6 linked regions of the Homo sapiens genome follow. The protein of the gene in region 2 purifies or fractionates together with the protein of the main gene of each other region. This does not show direct contact. Each region holds a gene or a part of one and is shown on either strand. Other genes may lie near its edges. The genes, in order: SPPL2A, SLC38A2, TMEM87A, PIP4K2B, ADGRG5 and PIP4K2A.

Region 1 (2,471 bases), on a different chromosome or scaffold from region 2:
CTGAGTAGCTGGGATTATAGGCATGTGCCACCACACCCGGCTAATATAGTATTTTTAGTAGAGACGGGGTTTCTCCATGTTGATCAGGCTGGTCTCGAACTCCCAACCTGAGGTGATCCGCCCGCCTCAGCCTCCTAAAGTGCTGGGATTACAGGCATGAGCCACCGTGCCTGGCACTTGTAGATTTTTTTTTAGATTAGCAATTCCTTAGTAGAATCTGCAATTTATTTCTCTTTTAAAGAGAATTTTAACCCATCTGCTATTGGCATTCTTATATTTTACTTGTCCATAGAGATTTTAGTGAATTGATACATTTATAATAAATACAAATGAGCTTTCCAGTTTTCTTTGCTCTTTCAATTTATGCTTTAGTATAAGCAAAAATTACTATTTTTACATTTTTAAAAATTGTGGGTACATGTAGGTGTATATATTTATGGAGTGCATGAGATGTTTTGATACAGGTATGCAATGTGAAATAAGCGGATCATGGAGAATGGGGTATCCATTCCCTCAAGCATTTATCCTTTGAGTTATAGACATATTTTACATTTGAATAAAAAATATTTGAACTAAGGCCGGGTGCGGTGGCTCACACCTGTAATCCCAGCACTTTGGGAGGCCAAGGCGGGTGGATCATGAGGTCAGGAGTTTGAGACCAGCCTGACCAACATGGTGAAACCCCGTCTCTACTAAAAATACAAAAATTAGCTGGGTGTGGTGGGGCTCGCCTGTAACCCCAGCTACTCAGGAGACTGAGGCAGGAGAATCGCTTGAACCTGGGAGGTGGAGGTTGCAGTGAGTCGAGATCACACCACTGCACTCCAGCCTGGGCGACAGAGCGAGACTCCATCTCAAAAAAAAAAAAAAAAAAAAAAAATATATATATGTATATATATATATATATATATGTATATATGAACTAATTTATTTAGGCTTAATCTCTAAAATTTCAGCCTGATCTTAACCAATGAAATTTCAAAAACAAAAACTGTACTTCAGTCTACAATTGAATGGAATTCAGTGTAGACCAGTACAATGGAATGTACTGGCTGAGATGGGAGGGTCCCTTGAGCCCAGGAGTTTGAGGCTGTAGTGAGCTGTGATTGTGTCTGTGAATAGTGACTGCACTCCAGCCTAGGTGACATAGCAAGATGCCATCTCAAAGAAATATAGATATATAACATAAAATAAATAACTTTATACATTTCCTGGAGGAAAAGTACTCTGTAAATTCAAGAGATCTGAATCAAATTACTCAACCTTTTGGAATTTGATCCTCTACTGTAATACTCATATGCTAGATTACTGAATTTTCAGAGTGAAAAAAAATTGACAGGGTAATATATAGGCCATATTATAGTGAAGATCATAAGTATAAATGTCCTCGTTTAATCTTTCCATATTGAGGACAGCCTCTGCATATAAAAATGTTCATTGGGAGAAAAATTATTTTTAAAACTAAATTTTTATAGTAGTCCTCCATTACTGGCAATTAAGGAGCAACCCACAAAATGTCATTATGTGGTTCTTTGATTAGGCATAAAAAGTATTGCAAACAGCTTTTCTATTCCTTTGGAATATGAATCTTTTTAATGTCTAAAGTTAACCTGCAACATTTTCTAGTAGGACAAGTCAATGTAAATTAGGTAATTTTTGCCTGTTTTATACCTTCTGTTGCATTTTGTTCAAATGAAAACATTTTTTAAAACATGATTGAATTTTTACTTCTCAGATAATTGGTTTGAGTGTGGAATTTCTTTTTTAACACTTTGATATGTAAGTTAGTGTAAATTAATACTTTTATAACACTACTAGGCTTTATATTTTTATGGAATGTTTTAAAATTTGAAATTTTTGAAGTGTTAATTTAGCAGTACTTTATCATTATGTGCCAATACTGACAAGAAAAACAATTTTTTATGTATTTAATATACTATGGTATTCAATAAATTCTATTTTAAAATAAAATTTGAATTTGTTTTATTTTGAATGAGGAAACTAATTGAAAATGAACTAACAGTGTGCTAGATAGATCATGTTCATATAACACAAAAATGGTAATAATTGCTTAAGAAATTATGTAGCTATTTAGGTTTTACAAATTATCCTTAAAACCTAGATTCTGGCCGGGCACGGTGGCTCACACCTGTAATCCCAACACTTTGGGAGGCCGAGGTGGGCGGATCACGAGGTCAAGAGATGGAGACCATCCTGGCCAACATGGTGAAACCCCGTCTCTACTAAAAATACAAAAATTAGCTGGACGTGGTGGCATGCGCCTGTAGTCCTGGCTACTCAGGAGGCTGAGGCAGGAGAATCACTTGAGCTGAGGCAGGAGAATCACTTGAGCCCGGGAGGTGGAGGTTGCAGTGACCGAGATCGTGTCACTGCACTTCAGCCTGGCGACAGAGCAAGACTCTGTCTCAAAAAAAAAAAAAAAAATAGATAAATAAATACCAAGGTCTATA
Region 2 (3,500 bases):
GCACTGAAGTCTAAACACAAAATTCACTTATGTTTCCTATACACCTTCTTAAACCCATAGCCTAAAGGTGATTTTATACAGTATTTTAATTAATTTTGCACACCTGTCACGAGATCAGGTGTGGATTTTCCACTTGTAGTGTCATGTTGGCACTCAAAAAGTTTTGGATTTCAGATTAGGGATGTCCAGCCTGTATTTTGCATTGAACAGATTAAGTCTTAAGAATTCCAAACTTACAAAAATAAGACGGATTAATTTTTAATGTAATTCAAAGCTTCAGTCCTCACTTAGGATATATATTAAAAACACCTATAACTTCTTTAAGTATGAACATAAAGACAGAAAGCAAGTTCTAGAAAACCTGTTTTAGAAATTAAGATATCCAAAATTGTAGGGCTAGCTACTATCTTTCGGCCTTTCCTTCTCCAAAGTTCGAATCAGTTTACGGGGATGGGGGGCCTTCTTGGTCAGTTTCAAAAGGAACATTTATGGATAATTAACTAATCATTTTGTATACAACTTTGATAAAAATGTATCTAACCACTTTTGACTATAATTGTTTCTTATGAGTAACCTTACTTAGCACCTACCCAGTTTTATCTTCAATGTTCGTTAATGCCTGGATCACCAAAGGCAACTCATATTTCACTATGAAGAGGTAGCTTGACATAGCTGGAGGAAAACAAAATTATACCATTACAAGTGCAAAACGCGGCACGTGACACTAAAACGCATGTGTCACCATTCTGTGCTCCACAATGAGCATAAAGTCTACCCAAATAATCTTTTGAAAAATTCTTACCTCCAATGTTCTGCATTGTAATTGATCCAGATGCTGCAAGCTTTCCAACTAATCCAAATGCCTTATATCCCAATTGTTCATATAATAAAGACCCTACAATTTGAAGACAGAAGCATGAAGCCAAGGATTTTAAAAGAGAAATAAAATGATAGGTATACATTGTTTTAGAAAAATCAAGAATGCTATCATACCTCCTTCATTGGCAGTCTTCAAAAGGAGATGAACAGAATACAGGGAAAATATTGACACAAATGTCAAGAGAATTCTGGTGAGAGAAGGAAAAGGCATAGGGTTATAAATAAGCATGGCTATATTTAAAGACAACTCTTTCTGGATGTTTAAATAACATTATGTGTGCAACTTGTCCTATTTGTGTCAAAATGCCCTGAAGAACTGGCATTTCCTCTCCTACTAACTGGAATGGCAACACTGTCTCTTGGCTGGCAGTAAAAACTTGCATCATTTCTCAGGTGATAGTTCTACAGCATTGGTTAGGAACAAGGATGTCTACCCACTGAGCCAAACATAGCATGAGACACTGGAAAGCTCAACTTCCCAGTGATGGAGTTTGAAACTTGTATTTTGATTCTGGCACCACAATAATGAGCTGTATGCTTGCCACCTTTCTGCATTTCAGTAGTTCCCCTTATCTGTAAAATATTAGTAATATCCGCCACTAAACCCAGCCCACAAGGTTCTTGGGAAATTCAACTGAGACACGTTCAGGAAAGGTTTTAAGACCACATGGACCGTATACACAAAAACAGGAATGACAGGCCAGGTGCAGTGGCTCATGCCTGTAATCCCAGCACTCTAGGAGGCTGGGGCAGGATGACTGCTTGAGGCCAGGAGTTCGAGATCAGCTTGGACAACATAACATAGGGAAGCCACATCTCTACCGAAGGAAAAACAAAAAGCCAGCTGTGGTGGTGTACACCTATAGTCTCAGCTACTCAGGCTGAGGTGGGGGTATCACTTGAGCCCAGCAGTTTGCCACTGCACTCAGCCTGGAGGACAAAATGAAATACTGTCTTTTTAAAAAAAAAAGAAAGAAAAGGAAAAGAATGGTAAGGGGGAAATGACACTAACATGATACTAACATTTTAAGAGGCACTACAAGCTTTACTAACAACTGGGCACAAATCAGAGAACTAACCATTGTGATGACATACTACATTGCACCCCATGGCAAGGAATACAGGCCCACTATTGTCACAGTTAAACAATGTCTGTGCTAGAACAAGTAGGCTATCAGCTTGACTGTCTCTAAGCCTTTCCTCCCTTGACCCTTTCACTTGGATTGAGCAACAGAAAAAAAATAAATAAATAAGGTAACATAGAGTGACTAAAGGGACCCTAATGTCACCTAATTTTCCTTTAGGGTAAGGGTTCTCCCTCATTCCAGCTTTACTTTCCTTCCACCTAGGAGAGCCCAGAGATACAGACTAATTTTTTAAAGAAATTAAATAACAAAACAGGGAAACTCATAGAAAACCTTGCAAAGGAGAAGAGTTACATGTTTTTTAATTCCGTATGAACAAACTGCACGCAGTACCATGTAAGGTGCTGACAAAGAAACTGATGTCTATTAGTTAAACAGAGGAAGTGGCTTTACACTACCATTCTAAATGCCAGAAGTTTTACAGGACCTAGTCTGAAGTGACACTATCAACCTCACTTCTAACTGGAGAAAATATGTTGGTTTAATTAAAAACAAACCAAATTAAGTCCTTCCATGTCTTATACTGAAATGACAAGGGATGAATAGACTTTATAACCTTTGAGGTCACTTTCAACCTTCAGATTGATTCTACTTAAACAGGTTAGCTACAGGGTTGCTGAAGTGCACCGTGGCAGCCATGTGGTTTTTGGCCCATTTTCCTCTATACCTCTAAATATAAAGTAAGTACTGATGAATAAAATCACACTTTAGCAATCTTATTTAGCCATTAAGCAAAATGGTAAATCAATGACATAAGCACCTATTAAAGTATAATTCCAAGAGTACAAGGGTTACATCAGAATTTGACCTTCACTTATGAAACAGAGGTGCCATTTAGTATCATTTCAATTCTTACTTTAACTACACTGGCTGCACTCTAAAACTGCCTCCAGTTTTTATACCAAGTGCTAACAAGGATTTCAAATATTCGACAGTGATGCCATTCAGGTTCTCCACTAAGAACTCCTGAGATTCTAGGATTCTACGTAAATCGCTGGTCCTTCACCTTAGTAAGAGTTCTCTCAAAAAGCCTCATCCTAATTGAAGCAAGCCAGAGTGAATCCTAGCATCTAGTACTCAAAGCCAGGCTTAACCTCAGTGTGGAATTTCACAAAGCAGAGATTTGCAAAGGTCTGCTTTTCTTTTCATGAACATTCTATCGTGCTGGAGAAAATAACTTGAGTAGAAGGCACCAATCAGCTAAGTAAAACACATCTGTCACAAAGGGACAATTCCATGCTATATACATATGGTTTCCTTATCTGTACAATGAAGGTATTAAGTTACACAATCCTCCACAGAAATTGCCTTAGCCAGGGGTCCACGGGTACTTAAACTTAAGGGCTATGACACAAACATCACTGAAAAATACATGCTTAAGATTGCATGTATTTTTGTTTTGTGCTTTTTCCCTGGAAATAAGATCCACATTTTTCTATCATATTCTCCAAGAGTCAGTGACGCAAAAATGGCTAA
Region 3 (3,500 bases), on a different chromosome or scaffold from region 2:
TCAGACTTGGTTATTTGAGAGTTATTTCTCTGGAAATGGGCAACAGAGGCTGTCCCCTCAAGGAAGACAACTGACAGTATTCACTGCCAAAATAAAATTTGAGATTTCAAGCAAAAACTGGAATTTTGAAGAACTTGTATCTGCTACACTGAATTTAACGGCTTCCAAAACTTAAGAACCTACTGATGAGATGAAGAGGGCAGGGTATAGTTATAAACAATGTAATTTTTAGCTAAGTGTGAAATGAGTTAATATTTATAAAAATGTATATAATTCAGTCAACTGCTATTTTCTAAATGACCAATAAATGATGCTACAAGATCACACACAGGTAAAAGATACATTCATATCAGTGGATTTCTTATCAGAGTACAAAAAAAGTTCATTAATATTTCAGATTCCACATTGCAACTAACCTTTAAAAACTTCCACTTGTTGAGTTTTGGTATAGAATCAAAAAAGAATATCCTCAGTTATCTGAAAAGGCCATTAAAATACCATTCCTTTTCCCAACTATATATCTGTATGAGGTCATTATTTTCTACATGTACTTAAGCCAAATTATTGCAACAGACTGAGTGAAGGAGGGAATATAAGAATACAGTGATCTTCTGTTATGCCAGATAGTAAACAAATTTACAAAAATACAAAACAATCCTACTCTTCTGTGTGGTTTTCTGGGAAAAACAGTTATTTATATTAACATGCAATAAGTTTATTATTGCTACTTTAAAATAAACTAATAAATATTTTTATATTTTCTCAGTTGTAATTTCTAATAGCATAACCCACATGCTCAAAGGCTTTCTGGAGTCCACAATAATTTTTACAAATATAAGAGTTCTGAAACCAAAAAGTTTGAGAATTGGTGGTCTGCAAATTGGGAAGCATGCATTCTAGTTTCAGCTCTCCTCCTCCATAGCTACATGATACTCTTTCCTCTATGAAATTAAGAGACTGGAACCAGATAATCACTAAGGTCCAAAAAAACTCTGTAATTTTATGTTCCTTACCTTGAAGTTATAGATTTCATTGTAACAATCAGCGCTTTTCAGATACCAGGTTATATTCAAAGACAGGTCACAAGGTTCTCCATCAACTACAAAAGAAGAAATCTTTGTTAACAAAAGATAATTCCCCAACAAAGCATTTTTCCTAAGCTGTTAACCTATATCCTATTCATTTCGTACCCTAAACTGAGATACTCAAAGACCATCCTTTCTCCAAACATAAGGTATTGAAATAATACATGCAAAAAGAGCTGGATATTAAGATAAAAGTATTGTTGTTCATAGAAAAATAGCAGGTAAGCAGTTTTTAACCTCTGGAAACTGTGGATCTATTTTTATGCCATAAAGTCCTAACTTCTGGATCTCTATTGAGAAAAACCTGGGAGTGATAAAGCACTCTAAATTCAAGCCAGTCTTCTATTATTTAAGTATTTATTGAGCAGGCTAGGTGCGGTAGCTCACACCTATAACCCCAGAAGTTTGGGAGGCCAAGGCAGGGGGATCGCTTGAGCCCAGGAGCTCAAGACCACCCTAGGCAACATAGTGAGAACTCATCTCTACAAAAAATGATTAAAAAGCTAGGCGTGGTGGTACATGCTTGTAGTCCCAGCTACTCAGGCAAGGGAGGCAGGAGGATCACTTGAGCCCAGGAGGTCAAGTCTGCAGTGAGCCATGATGGTACCACTGCACTCCAGCCTGGGCGACAGAGCGAGACCCTGTCTCAAAAAACATAAATAAATAAATAAATAAATAAATAGCACAAGTATTACAAAGGTATAATGGCACACTGTTAGGCTAAAGAGGGAAACGAGTGGAAACAAATTATTAAGACCCTTCAAAAGGCTAGTTGAAGAGACAAGCAATAATAAAATTAGGAATGCATGTCACAAGGCAATATTAACAACTGTTAAATGGTGTTAAATGATGATATACATAATAGTTCCACTGAGAGCAAAATTGCTATCTCAGACCTTGAAAGATATCAAGATAGAACAGAAAGAGCAATGAACGAAAAGCAAACATGGCTGTGGAAGGTAGAAATAGCAAAAGCAAAGATAAGAGTATCAGATTTTTTTTTTCAAAGCCTACCTTAAAAGAGGCCTCAAGGAAGCTCATGTTATCATGGAAGCTTCATAAAGCTCATTAAACACAGTTTGGAACACAGTATTCTAATGGATCAAGACATTATTCTGAAGACTTGGGAGGGTAAATCTGACTATATGACTGATTAGCTGGAGGAAGTCAGTATTCGCTTTTATCTTTGATTCTAGCTATGAAAGGAAAAATATACTAAAGACTCCCTACTTTATATAAATGTAATAATAAACATGACAAAAATAAACATGACTGCATTTAGGAATCTACTTTTCATTCATAACAAAAGAAGCAACCTAATTATAAGCTTCCTTTTTTTTTCTTTTAAACTGTTTTCTCAAACTAATTTTTAGATGACCAACACATTTTCAAAGGACTCTATTAGAATGTTCAAAAATTTGACCTGTTGGATAGAATTTATGGAAATGATAAAAAGCAATTGGGCTATGAACTATTCAAAATAATCCATACAGGGACAGGATTAACTAATAAAAAGCCAGTAAGAACACATCCCCCAAACAGGAGACTTGTAAGGAAATTTGGCAGCAAAAATACTGCTGTTTATGTTACAAGACAATATTTAGAACTTTAAATGAAAGGCTTTAAGAGACAATAAGGTCGGGCGCGGTGGCTCACGCCTGTAATCCCAGCACTTTGGGAGGCCGAGGCGGGTGGATCATGAGGTCAGGAGATCGAGACCATCCTGGCTAACAAGGTGAAACCCCGTCTCTACTAAAAATACAAAAAATTAGCCGGGCGCGGTGGCGGGCGCCTGTAGTCCCAGCTACTCGGGAGGCTGAGGCAGGAGAATGGCGTGAACCTGGGAAGCGGAGCTTGCAGTGAGCCGAGATTGCGCCACTGCAATCCGCAGTCCGGCCTGGGCGACAGAGCGAGACTCCGTCTCAAAAAAAAAAAAAAAAAAAAAAATGGTCCCAGCTATTCCATGGAAAGCTATATACCATCCCCCAAAAAGTACAAAATCAAAGACAACTGGTAAATATGAGAAAGCACAGAAATAACAAAGAAAAAGATAATGTTAAAGTGTCTCAGGCCGGGCACGGTGGCTCACACCTGTAATCCCAGAACTGTGGGAGGCCAAGGCAGGCAGATAACTTGAGGTCGGGAGTTCGAGACCAGCCTGGCCAATATGGTGAAACCCCCACCTCTGCTAAAAATACAAAAATTAGCCGGCGTGGTGGCACGCGCCTATAGTCCCAGCTACTCGGGAGGCTGAGGCAGAAGAATCGCTTGAACCCAGGAAGCAGAGGTTACAGTGAGCCGAGATCGTGCCACTGCATTCCAGCCTGGGCGTCACAGCAAAACTCCGTCTCAAAAAACAACAACAAAAAATAAAGTGCCTCAAATCCTCCAAAAACAATGAAATATAAACACTTC
Region 4 (3,500 bases), on a different chromosome or scaffold from region 2:
TAGATGGGATTACAGGCGCATGCCACCACACCCGGCAAATTTTTGTATTTTTAGTAGAGACAGGGTTTCGCCATGTTGGCCAGGCTGGTGTCAAACTCCTGACCTCAAGTGATCCGCCTGCCTCGGCCTCCCAAAGTGCTGGGATCACAGGCGTAAGCCACTGCTCCCAGCCATCTCTGAAGATTTTTTCTTTTTTTTTTTTTTTTGAGACGGAGTTTTGCTCGTCACCCAGGCTGGAGTGCAATGCCGCCATCTTGGCTCAATGCAACCGCCGTCTCCCAGGTTCAAGTGATTCTCCTGCCTCAGCCTCCCGAGTAGCTGGGATTACAGGCATGCGCCACCATGCCCGACTAATTTTTGTATTTTTAGTAGAGACGGGGTTTCACCATGTTGGCCAGGCTGGTCTTGAACTCCTGACCTCAGGTGATCCGCCCACCTTGGCCTCCCTAACTGCTGGGATTACAGGCGTGAGCCACCATGCCAGGCCCCTCTGAAGATTTTTAAAGCAGTAGGGCAAGATAAAAAGACAGGTAAAGGAGGTCAGTGGCTCACGCCTGTAATCCTAGCACTTTGGAAGACCGAGGTGGGCAAATCGCTTGAGCCCAGGATTTCGAGACCAGCCTGGGCAACATGGCAAAACCCCGACTCTTCAAAAAATACAAGTGTTAGTCGGGTGTGGTGGCATGTGCCTGTAGTCCCAGCTACTCGGGTGGCTAAGGCAGGAGAATCACCTGAGCATGGGGAGGTAGGGGCTTCATTGAGCCGTGATTGTGCCACTGCACTTCAGCCTGTGCAAGAGCGCGAGACCCTGCCTCAAAAAAACAAACAAAAAAAAAAACAAGAAAGAAAGAAAATGTATGGACAGAACAGAACTGGGGTGGAATGTAGGAGAGAAATTGAGCAGACTAAAGAATAAATCTGTCCCTCACACCATACCCAAAAGTGAATTCAAAATGGATTACAGACTTAAATGTAAGAACTAAAACTATACATACTCCAGCACTATTCACAAGAGCTAAGGTGTGAAAACAAATCCATCAACAGATGATAAAGAAAATGTGGTATACATATACAACAGAATACTATTCAGCCTTAATAAAAGAAGGAAATTCTGCTATGTGCAACATGGATGAACCTTGAGCACCTTACGCTGAGATCAGCTAGTCGCAGAAAAACATATATTGCATGATTCTCCTTATATAAGGTTTCAAAACAGTCCAATTCATAGAAACAAAGAGTAGAATGGTGGTTGCCAGGGGCTGGGGGCGGGGGAAATGGGGAGTTAATTGGTAGGCATAAAGTTTCATTCAAGCGAGATGAATACGCTCTACAGAGCTGCACTATGACACTGTTCCCATGGTCATCAATAACATAATCGTACACTTAAAATTTTGTCATGAGAGTACATCTTATGTTAAATGTTCTGACCACAATACAATTAAAAAAAAAAAAAGAAGAAGAAGAAAGAAAGAGCTAAAACTCTAGTTGGGAGGATTGCTTCAGGCCAGAAGTTTGAGAACATCCTGGGCAATACAGAGAAACCCCAATTCATTAAAAAAAAAAAAAAAAAAAAAAAGAGCTAGAACTATAAAACTTTTAGAAGAAAACAAAGGAGTAAATCTTCATGACCTTGGGTTAGGCAATGTCTTCTTAGATATAACACCAAAAGCACACACAACAACAACAAAAAAGATAAACTGGACTTTATTAAAGTTAAAAACTTGAACTTCAAAAGATACCATAAGAAAAATGAAAAAGGCAGGCCAGGTGCAGTGGCTCACGCCTGTAATCCCACCACTTTGGGAGGCCGAGGCGGGGGGATTGCTTGAGGCCAGGAGTTCGAGACCAGTCTGGCCAACATGGCAAAACCCTGTCTCTACTAAAAATACAAAAATTAGCCTGGTGTGGTGGCGGGCACCTGTAATCCCAGTTACTCAGGAGGCTGAGGCAGGAGAATCGCTTGAACCCGGGAGGCAGAGGTTGCAGTGAGCCAAGATCACACCGTTGCACTCCAGCCAGGGCGACAGAGCAAAACTCCATCTCAAAAAAAAAAAAAAAAAAAAAAAAAGAAAAATGAAAAAGACAACTCAATGAATAGGATAAAATATTTGCAAATCATATATCTGATAAGGGACCTGTATCTAGAATATAAAAAGAATTCTTGTAACTCAATAATAAGAAGATAACCCAATTTAATAATGGGCAAAAAGATCTTTGTAAATGGGCAAAAAATTTAATAGACATTCTCCAAAGAAAAGATACCAATGAAGGCTGGGGATGTGGCTCATGCCTGCAATCCCAGTCCTTTGGGAGGCCAAGGCGGGAGGACCACTTGAGGCCAGGAGTTCAGGACCAGCCTCGGCAACAAAGCGAGACCCTGTCTCTACAACAACAACAAAAAGAAAATGTACAGGCCAGGCACAGTGGCTCACACCTGTAATCCCAGCACTCTGGGAAGCCAAGGCAGGTGGATCACCTGAGGTTAGGAGTTTGAGATCAGCCTGGACAACATGGTAAAACTCCATATCTACTAAGAATACAAAAGTTAGCTGGGTGTGGTGGCAGGCACCTGTAATCCGAGGTACTTGGGAGGCTGAGGCAGGAGAATCGCTTGAACCAAGGAGGCGGAGGTTACAGTGAACTGAGATTGTGGCACTAAACTCCAGCCTGGGCGACAGAGCAAGACTCTGTCTCAAGAAAAAAAAAAAAAGAAAAGAATATGTACAAATGGCCAGTAAGTACATGAAAAAATGCTCAACATCATTAGTTATCACAGAAATGCCAATCAAAGTCACAATGAGGCCGGGTGCGATGGCTCATGCCTGTAATCCCAGCACTTTGGGAGGCCGAGGCAGGTGGATCACCTGAGGTCAGGAGTTTGAGACAAGCCTGGCCGACATGGTGAAACCTTGTCTCTACTAAAATAAAAAAATTAGCCACGTGTGGTGGCAGGCATCTGTAATCCCAGCTACTGAGGAGGCTGAAGCAGGAGAATTGCTTGAACCCGGGAGGTGGAGGTTGCGGTGAGCCGAGATTGCACCACTGCACTCCAGCCTGGGTGACGGAGTGAGACTCCATCACAAAAACAAACAAACAAACAAAATCACAATGAGATACGAATTCACACCCAACAGAATGGCTTTAATAACTTTAAAAAGACAATAACAAGTGTTGACAAGGATGCAGATACTGGAACTCTTATACACTGCTGGTAGACATGTAAAATGGTACAGCCACTTTAGAGAACAGTTTGGCAGTTTCTCAAATGGTTAAATACAGAGTCACCATCAACTGCTCCTGCTCCTCTGATCCCTGTGGTAAGGCTTCACACATACCTGGTTCTTAAAATGGCCAACAAGTATCAAGTCAGGTCTACCTCCCATGGTCTCCATGCTCCTCTCTGAGGCCATCTCTTCCCTAATTCCAAACCCTCGGAACTGTATTTCATCCACTAAAACACTGGTTTTTGCTCTTCACTAGTTCTTCCCTGACAGGTGCAA
Region 5 (4,047 bases), on a different chromosome or scaffold from region 2:
TTCCCATAATTCCTCGGGACCCTCATTAGCAAGGGGACCCCCTGCCCCAAGGCCTGGAGAGCCTGGGCTTAACCATGGGAGCTTGGATGGGTGCTCACATCACCCAGATGGTGGCAGGGGTGGGGAGAATCTGCCTGGAGTTAGCGTGGGAAAGAGGCCTTCTCTAGGCACCGCTGGGGCAATTTTGTAGATGTGATAAATGACCACCAGGAATTTCTATAGACCGGAAGATTGGGGAACTGGGAGGTCGGGGGACATGTGGCATGGCCTGGAGGCTGCACTGTGTGGGGACTATTCCTAGAACAGCAGAAAGTCAGCGAGGTGGGAGTAGAGACCCGTCTGGGGAAAGAAACTGAGGCATGGTGAGATGTGCCTAAGAAGGGGTTGTGCCTACAAGGTTGAGCAGAGCTGGGCCTGGGGCTTAGACAGGCTGGCCTCTGAAACTCAGTTAACACTGTTAACAATAATAGCAAAAATACTAATGATAATACCAGTAACCATTTACTGAGCACTTACTCTGTGCCAAGTCTCTTTATTTGAATTCTTTTACTTAGTCTTCAAAATAGGTACCACTATGGCCTCTATTTTACAAATAGGAAAACTGAGGCACACAGAGGCTGAGTGGTTTGTCCACAGTCTCACAGCTAGCAAGTGGCAGAGCTGGCATTGGAGCCCAGGCAGCCTGGCTCCAGAGCCTACGCCACTCACTGCCTGGTGAAGGAGTTATTTGCATCTAGAAATGTACAGAAGAGCAGAAGATGTCCCAGGAGAACTTTTCCCCAGGGGAAATCCTGCTCCTATTTTCTGCCTGTGACCTTCGAGGTCATCAAAACGGCCCAGTGGCCTGGGGCAGGGCCCTGAGCACCCACCACCTGAGCACCCTGCTCTGGTGCCAGCTATGTCTGGGGTGCAGCCCCCAAGAGCGAAAGTGCACCGCCGCATTGGGAAAAGAGACAAATGGCCGTGTAAGCGTGTCTTGCCTTTCCTCCTGGAGGAAATGGGTCACTCAGTAGGCGCAGTCCTGCAGTTACGGCCCCTCCAGCTGGTGCATGGGGTCTGCAAACAGGTGTTTGAGCGATTCTAGATGCAGTCTTGGCGCCAAGGGCCTCTGAGTGTGGACCAACGGTGCCGCCTAGTGTTCGTTCTGGGAAACGCACTGGCTTCATGAGCACTGTCTCATGAAGGTCTGGGGTAAGGGTGATTCTCTGAAACTATGGCCTGAGCTTCGAATTTAAAACCCACACTCTCACGCCTACCTGGGCAAATTCAATCTTGCCCAATCACCAAACAGCCAGGACACTGGGATCCAGCTGATTCAGCTGGAGGAGAAAGAAGCGTTTTCCTCTGCCCCCAAGAAAACTGCGGGATGGGCTACTGGTCCAGATGGTCTATGGAAGTCTTGGGAGCACCGCAGGAGGAGCCTCTGGGAACGGCGGAACCTCCCAATCTTTGGGAAGGGTGGGCTTGGACTTGGAGTCATCATAATTTAGGGAGTTAAAGGAAAAGAGGCCTCAGGCATAGGCCAGTAAAGTCTCAGAGCCTGGGTAGGTCCCACCCGCCCCAAGCCAGGATGCCATCTGGCCCTCCCCTGGAGGAAGGTGGCAGGGCCAAGCAGGTGCTTCCAGGGCAGCCTGAATGAGATCCTGCCCCTAGCAAGCAGGTGGAGGCCGCGGGAATTCCCACCCCACGCTGACACTCTTCCCCCTGGTCTTATGCAATTTTTACTAAGCTCCTGGGTTAGGCTGAAACAAAGCCGCTTGCCCCCATGTCACAGCTGTGGATACCTAGGGTCTGTGAGAAGTGGCAGGCCCAAGGTCATACAGACAGACTCAAAGACAGTCCTTGAAACTTGGCTTCCTGATGCCCAGGCTGGTGCTCTGCCCACATCCCTGGCGAGCTGGGCCCAGGTACCAGGACAAAGTTTGCTGCCCCAGGTAAGGTTGGATCTGCCCCGGAGCAAAATGTCAGGGAGAGGTAGAGCAATGCCTTCCCCTCAGTGCCTGGAGAGGCCGTGGAAGTGGAAAAGGCCCCTTGGCGGTCACAGTGGCCTCTGGGGTCCAGCAGCAGGCCTGCCACCCTCTCTAGCAGGAGCCGTAGCCTCAGGCTACTGGCGGCCAGAGAGGCTGAGGATTCCAGGCCAGGAGGCCCGGACTACTGTGTTGTTTGGGAGGAGCTGAAGGCCTCTATCTGTGCCTTGGCCTCTGCTTCTGAGCGGCACCGCTGGGAGCAGAACCACAGGAAAAGGAAGAAACCTGCAAGAGAAAGGCGGGAGTTCCACGGGGCAGCATGGGCTTCCCCAAAGGCCAGGGTCTCCTTGGCTGCAGCGAGCTGGCCTCCCTGGGGCCCATGGGCAACTCCCAGAATCTCTTACTGTAGGAGGCCAGAGGGGCAGAGCCTCAGAGCTGGAAGAGCTGCTGTGGCCAGTCCATAGGGTACCTTCATGCAGATGTAGCCCCCACCAGCTTAGCTAGTGGAGCTGTGGGCTGGATGTTAGTCCCCCACTCGCCCCCTTCACCTGAACCCCTTTAGCAGTGAACATCCCACCAGCCATACACCCCCTGCCAGGTAGCTTCCTCCAGGCCGCCCTCCAGCCCTACCGTAGAGCGAGTTTAAGATGGTGAAGAGGAACAGCTGGGGCAGCAGGAAGACGCCAAAAGAAAAGAAGGCCAAGGCCCAGGTGGTTCCCAGCAGCACGGTGAGGCCCAGCACAGTGACAGTGTCATGGCAGGCCCTGACACTTGGTGCATCCGCCCGCTCCCGCAGCCTGCGCAGGGTCCACAGCGCCCAGGCCAGCACCACCAGGTTGAAGAGGGACGTGAGGCCGCCGTAGCCCATGACCAGGACACTGTGCACCACGGGGCTCCGCACCCAGCATCTGCAGGGGAGGGTGACGTGTCAGGCTCACAGTGGCTCCCAGGCCCGCGGGGAGGCCAGCATCACTCCCTGAAGCCCCACTCGGTCTCCTGGCTCAGGCCCTATTGTTTCTTGCCTGACTGAACACACAGTGAAACCCCTCACCCGGCTTTCCAGCCAGGCCACCATCAGAGGACACATCTGCCTCCTTGGTCAACAATCTGAAGCTCCCTCATGCCCACCTTTCCAGCCACAGTGGTTTCTCTCACGTCCCCATGTCTTCACCCCCCTGAAAATTCTTCCTCTCTCCTTTCCACATCTCACTCCTCTCTGCTTCCATGGCCAGCCCAAGGCCGGCATGCCCCATCTTCTATTGGATCCTTGGCCCGGAGCCCTCTTTCCTGGAAACTTCCCCTTCCACCCCACTACATGGTTGTCACCACCTCATCACCATCTCTGCAGTGGGACGCCCCTCCCCAGGAGCCACTCCCCACCTAGACGGGGCCACCAAGGCCTGCGCTGGAGAGTGGGCGGGCTGCCAACCTGTGGCTTGGTGGACAGGGACCCTCCAAGTGTCAACCTGAGAGCACACAGAGCCGCAGGAGAGCCCACTGAGGGCTGAGCAGAGAGCCATGGAGAACTAACCGAAGCCAGCCCCGGTCCCACGCCCTCCCGGAGGCCTCTGCCCTTTGCCTCCCCAAGACACCTTCAAGACAGATGCCACCTTTTAGTCGGACACAATGTCATGCTGAGGCAGGAGAAAAGGGTTTAGAGACAGGGAAATGTAAGGACTTCCTAGAACTAAATCAAATGGAGGCCAGGCGCGGTGGCTCATGCCTGTAATCTCAGCACTTTGGGAGGCCGAGGTGGGCGAATCACTTGAGGTCAGGAGTTGGAGACCATCCTGGCCAACATGGTGAAACCCCGTCTGTACTAAAAATACAAAAATTAGCTGGGCGTGGTGGCAGGTGCCTGTAATCCCAGCTGCTCGGGAGGCTGAGGCAGGAGAATCACTTGAACCCGAGAGGCAGAGGTTGCAGTGAGCCGAGATCGCACCACTGCACTCTAGCCTGGGTGACAGAGCGAGATTCCATCTCAAAATAAATAAAAATAAATCAAATGGAAACACTTCAGCTATGACAGAAAATATCCTCTCCATTTACATAGGGCATATGCCAAATGACTTTGTAACTT
Region 6 (3,500 bases), on a different chromosome or scaffold from region 2:
TGGCATCAGTGTTTGCATCTGTGAACTGAGGTTGTTTGGATGATTTCCAAGTCTAACTCAAGATTCTGTTTTTTCAGTCTACTAGGTGCACAGTGTTATACTAGGATTTGTAGAATACTATATAAAAGTTGTCTTACTATTATAACCTTCCAAATGCAGCAACATTCAGGGAATTTTCAAGACCTTGACTACAGGGGAAGGAAATCTATGGTGATTTTAAGAGACTGTGAACTAAGGGTTTGTTATATTGAATGTAGCTGAACTGCATTGCAGTCTATTAAGCCAAAGTCGATTTGATTGAAACATAACAACTTGCAATTAAGGTGAAAATGTTCAAGTCCATTGAGGTGGTAATGAAAATCTTGATTTGGGCAATGGTCATAGTCGGGAGTAAGCCTGCCATTGTGTGGTTAATTTGATATGTTACTGCTTTGTAACTTAAAATACCCATCAGTGAATGGATCAGTGCCAATTTTTAAGTATTTTAAGCAGAGAATATAACTGAATACATAAAGGAAAAGACTTAAGGCAGTTTTGTCTTGTTACATTTAGAATTAAACTAAAAATGATCAAACAGTAAGCGTCTTAAGATGATATTTTAATAGTGTGGGGAGGATGTTGAATGATATGAGCCAAGACTTGTTTTAAATAGATACTCTAAAAGATTTTTATCCACAGTGAAATGTGAGCCTTTTAGAAATTAGTATTTTAAAACCTATTTAAATATCCAAAGGAAAACATTATCTGTATAGAAAAATCTTAAAGCACATAAAACTTGTTTAAAACATGTAGCATTTAGAAGTAGCTAAGTATTGATGTTAGAGGCTTTTGGTTTAAAGCTGTAGAAGTTGAAATGAGCTTTGGCAAAAATGTCAGGTATTGAGGGGTTTGGGGGGCCTATCACAGTAGAAGGAAAGGCTGGTAATGGAACCATGTGAAGAGCTGGGTGCTTGAGTGTGTGGGTGTGTGAGTGCGTGGGACTTTTCTGTACCCTTTGGCTCAGTTCTCCTTCATAGCTGGCTGGTTCCTCCACAGAGCAGGGAATGAACGGTTCCTGTATTTCACATTTTGTCATTTCTGCTCCCCCAAAAGGGTTTCCTGTCTCTAATTCAGTTATAAAAATACCGTGGAAGGATTCCACTTGGGATTGGTCTGGCCTTGGTCATTTGTGGCCGTCCCTTGGACTAAGCAGTTATAAAAACATGGCAGCGCTTGCCTGTTGGCGTTGGGGAAAGAACAGTCCCCAGAGAGGGGAAAGGGCCTGCCAGGCAGTTTCAGGCAGGTCTCTGTCCGAGTAATAGAGCTGGATGGTTCTGGACATCCGTGGGTCTTTACCGTGGGAATCTGTGAGGGCCAGCCTGATGAGCACCATGTGCTGTGTTGTGTGTGGATTGGAGAATTCATGGTGTCCTTGGTGGAGCGTCAGTAGCTTTGATTATATTCTCCACAAGCTCTGGTTTTTGGAATAGACAAAGACCATATTGGATACATCATAATTTTTTTTTTTTTTTTTTTGGTTCATGGGTTTTTATTTGGGCACTGAAAGAAGATAAGGAAACTAAGTTTTAAAGTGATTTGAGTGACTGTGAAATGACTTTGACTGAATAGGACATAATAAGGCAATTACATTAAAATTAAAATTAGACATTAGATGAAATTATTGAGTGGAACCCAGCTACCATTCATTCAAGAACTAGTCTCCTCAAACTATTTTTTTGTTCTTTTTAATCTTCAGAGGAAAGAAACATACCAAGCAGACATACAGAAAGTTTATTAGGGAAGTCGTTTTATACTCCTTAAAACTTGGGATTATAACCAGAGAACAGAATACATTTTCCTCTCCATTTGTCAGATACTTTAGAGTGAACTCTAAGTATTTATACTTAGTACTTAGTGTTACTTAGTACTTACAGTTACTAAACTTCAGTACTCAGAATGATGCCCCATGTCAGGTCAGTGATTTCTATTTCCAGGGTATCCTGATCTGCTGTGTCTTTAGATAGGTTGCCGGCAAGAATTATAATAAACCACCAAAATCTGCCTTAAGTTGATTAGAAAATACAGGCAACCAGAGTAATTAATTCTGCCAGCATAGCCTTCGAAATACAAATTTTGGAATTGAAGGGAATTGGTGCAATTTGGCAAAAAAGGTTTGTGGTTAGACAGATGAGGTTCAAATGCTAACTTTGGAACTGATGGGCTCTTTGAGCAGGTGATTTAGTCACTTGAGCCTCAATTTTCACATTCTTAAAATGGAGATAATGATATGACTTCACAGGGTTGAGAGTTAAATGAGATACTGTGTTTAAGGCCTAGCACTGTAATTAGCACATCATAAGGATTCAGTAAATGATGCCTAAAAGTAATAAAGTTCAAATGCAGTTTGGATGGTGATATATTAAAAGAACCAGATCCCTGTTTCTCAAAATTTAAGGTGTTTATCAATCGGGGACTTTTAAAAAAAAAAAAAAAGTCTGCTAAATTAGGCTCTGCTGCTGGGTAGGTGGCTCATGCATGTAATCCTAGTCATGCATTGGGAGGCTGAGGCAGGAGGATTGCTTGAGGCCAAGATTTTGAGACCAGCCTGGGCAGCATAGCAAGACCCTGTCTCTACAAAAAATGTAAAAACATAGATGGGTATGGTGGCACACACCTGTAGCCTGAACTACTCAGGAGGCTGAGGTGGGAGGATCATCTGAGTCCAGGAGGTCCAGGCTGCAGGGAGCCATGGTTGTACAGTGTACTGTAGCTTGGGTGACAGATGGAGGCTCCCACTAAATGTGAAACAATAAAAATTAAAATGCAGTGTCTAATTCAGCAGATCTGTTGGGAGTGCTGCCTGAGACTGTGCATTTATCATACTCTCGGGTGGTACTGATGCTGCAGGTCCACAGGCTACATAGCAGTAGAAGGAAGAACTTTACCACTAAGGATTCCTCCCCCAGCCCCAACTGTATGTGATGAGCCCTTAGAAGAATGGTGGCCCCATGATAGATTAGAGAATTTGGGAGAAGAAATTGTAGGTTGGAAAGGGACACAAGCAATTTAGATTTAAGAATGTGGAATTGCAGGTGATGGTGGTGGGTGGATCCTGCAGTTACAGTACCATGTAGGATGCTGGAAAGGTGTGATTGGAGCTCGGGAGCCACTAGGGCTGGGATAGACCATTGAGACCTGCCCGTACAGAATCGGTAAGTCAGATCTCCACCGGAGGAGCAGGGACACTGGGGACACTTGGCTTTGAGGGAAGGACAGAGGAAGAAGAAACAGGAGGAGAAAACAGAGGTCGGCACAATTAGATGTTCCCAAGTGCTTGAAAGTCATGGCTGTGCTTGTGGTTGATTGCGGGTGGCTGTGAAAGCTTAAAGACTTAAGGAGTGAATGAGTGGAAGTAGAGGCAATTCCTCTTTTTTGGAAGGTAAGTAGAAGGAAGGTGAAAGATGCCATTTTGTTAGGAATCCCTGGGGAGTTTCCTTGAATCCGTCTCTTCGTTTCCATTC

The links.
Region 1: the proteins of SLC38A2 (region 2) and SPPL2A fractionate together in Homo sapiens (co-fractionation; one large-scale study listed by BioGRID). This does not show direct contact.
Region 3: the proteins of SLC38A2 (region 2) and TMEM87A fractionate together in Homo sapiens (co-fractionation; one large-scale study listed by BioGRID). This does not show direct contact.
Region 4: the proteins of SLC38A2 (region 2) and PIP4K2B purify together in Homo sapiens (affinity purification with mass spectrometry; one large-scale study listed by BioGRID and IntAct). This does not show direct contact.
Region 5: the proteins of SLC38A2 (region 2) and ADGRG5 purify together in Homo sapiens (co-immunoprecipitation; one large-scale study listed by IntAct). This does not show direct contact.
Region 6: the proteins of SLC38A2 (region 2) and PIP4K2A purify together in Homo sapiens (affinity purification with mass spectrometry; one large-scale study listed by BioGRID and IntAct). This does not show direct contact.

The regions. Positions count from the first base shown.
Region 1 is NC_000015.10:50,701,766-50,704,236, reverse strand, and holds the end of SPPL2A (signal peptide peptidase-like 2A isoform 1 precursor), read left to right. Parts: 3' UTR 1-1,971; downstream 1,972-2,471. UniProt on the Homo sapiens protein: Intramembrane-cleaving aspartic protease (I-CLiP) that cleaves type II membrane signal peptides in the hydrophobic plane of the membrane. Functions in FASLG, ITM2B and TNF processing.
Region 2 is NC_000012.12:46,366,274-46,369,773, forward strand, and holds part of SLC38A2 (sodium-coupled neutral amino acid symporter 2), read right to left. Parts: intron 1,068-3,500; coding exon 994-1,067; intron 896-993; coding exon 803-895; intron 673-802; coding exon 591-672; intron 1-590. UniProt on the Homo sapiens protein: Symporter that cotransports neutral amino acids and sodium ions from the extracellular to the intracellular side of the cell membrane.
Region 3 is NC_000015.10:42,266,934-42,270,433, forward strand, and holds part of TMEM87A (transmembrane protein 87A isoform 1 precursor), read right to left. Parts: intron 1,100-3,500; coding exon 1,014-1,099; intron 1-1,013. UniProt on the Homo sapiens protein: Potential monoatomic ion channel gated by mechanical force, implicated in normal touch sensitivity through the generation of mechanically activated currents.
Region 4 is NC_000017.11:38,793,057-38,796,556, forward strand, and holds part of PIP4K2B (phosphatidylinositol 5-phosphate 4-kinase type-2 beta), read right to left. Parts: intron 1-3,500. UniProt on the Homo sapiens protein: Participates in the biosynthesis of phosphatidylinositol 4,5-bisphosphate. Preferentially utilizes GTP, rather than ATP, for PI(5)P phosphorylation and its activity reflects changes in direct proportion to the physiological GTP concentration.
Region 5 is NC_000016.10:57,573,643-57,577,689, reverse strand, and holds the end of ADGRG5 (adhesion G-protein coupled receptor G5 isoform 1 precursor), read right to left. Parts: intron 2,876-4,047; coding exon 2,598-2,875; intron 2,253-2,597; coding exon 2,152-2,252; 3' UTR 501-2,151; downstream 1-500. UniProt on the Homo sapiens protein: Orphan adhesion G-protein coupled receptor (aGPCR). Ligand binding causes a conformation change that triggers signaling via guanine nucleotide-binding proteins (G proteins) and modulates the activity of downstream effectors, such as adenylate cyclase.
Region 6 is NC_000010.11:22,708,079-22,711,578, reverse strand, and holds part of PIP4K2A (phosphatidylinositol 5-phosphate 4-kinase type-2 alpha), read left to right. Parts: intron 1-3,500. UniProt on the Homo sapiens protein: Catalyzes the phosphorylation of phosphatidylinositol 5-phosphate (PtdIns5P) on the fourth hydroxyl of the myo-inositol ring, to form phosphatidylinositol 4,5-bisphosphate (PtdIns(4,5)P2). Has both ATP- and GTP-dependent kinase activities.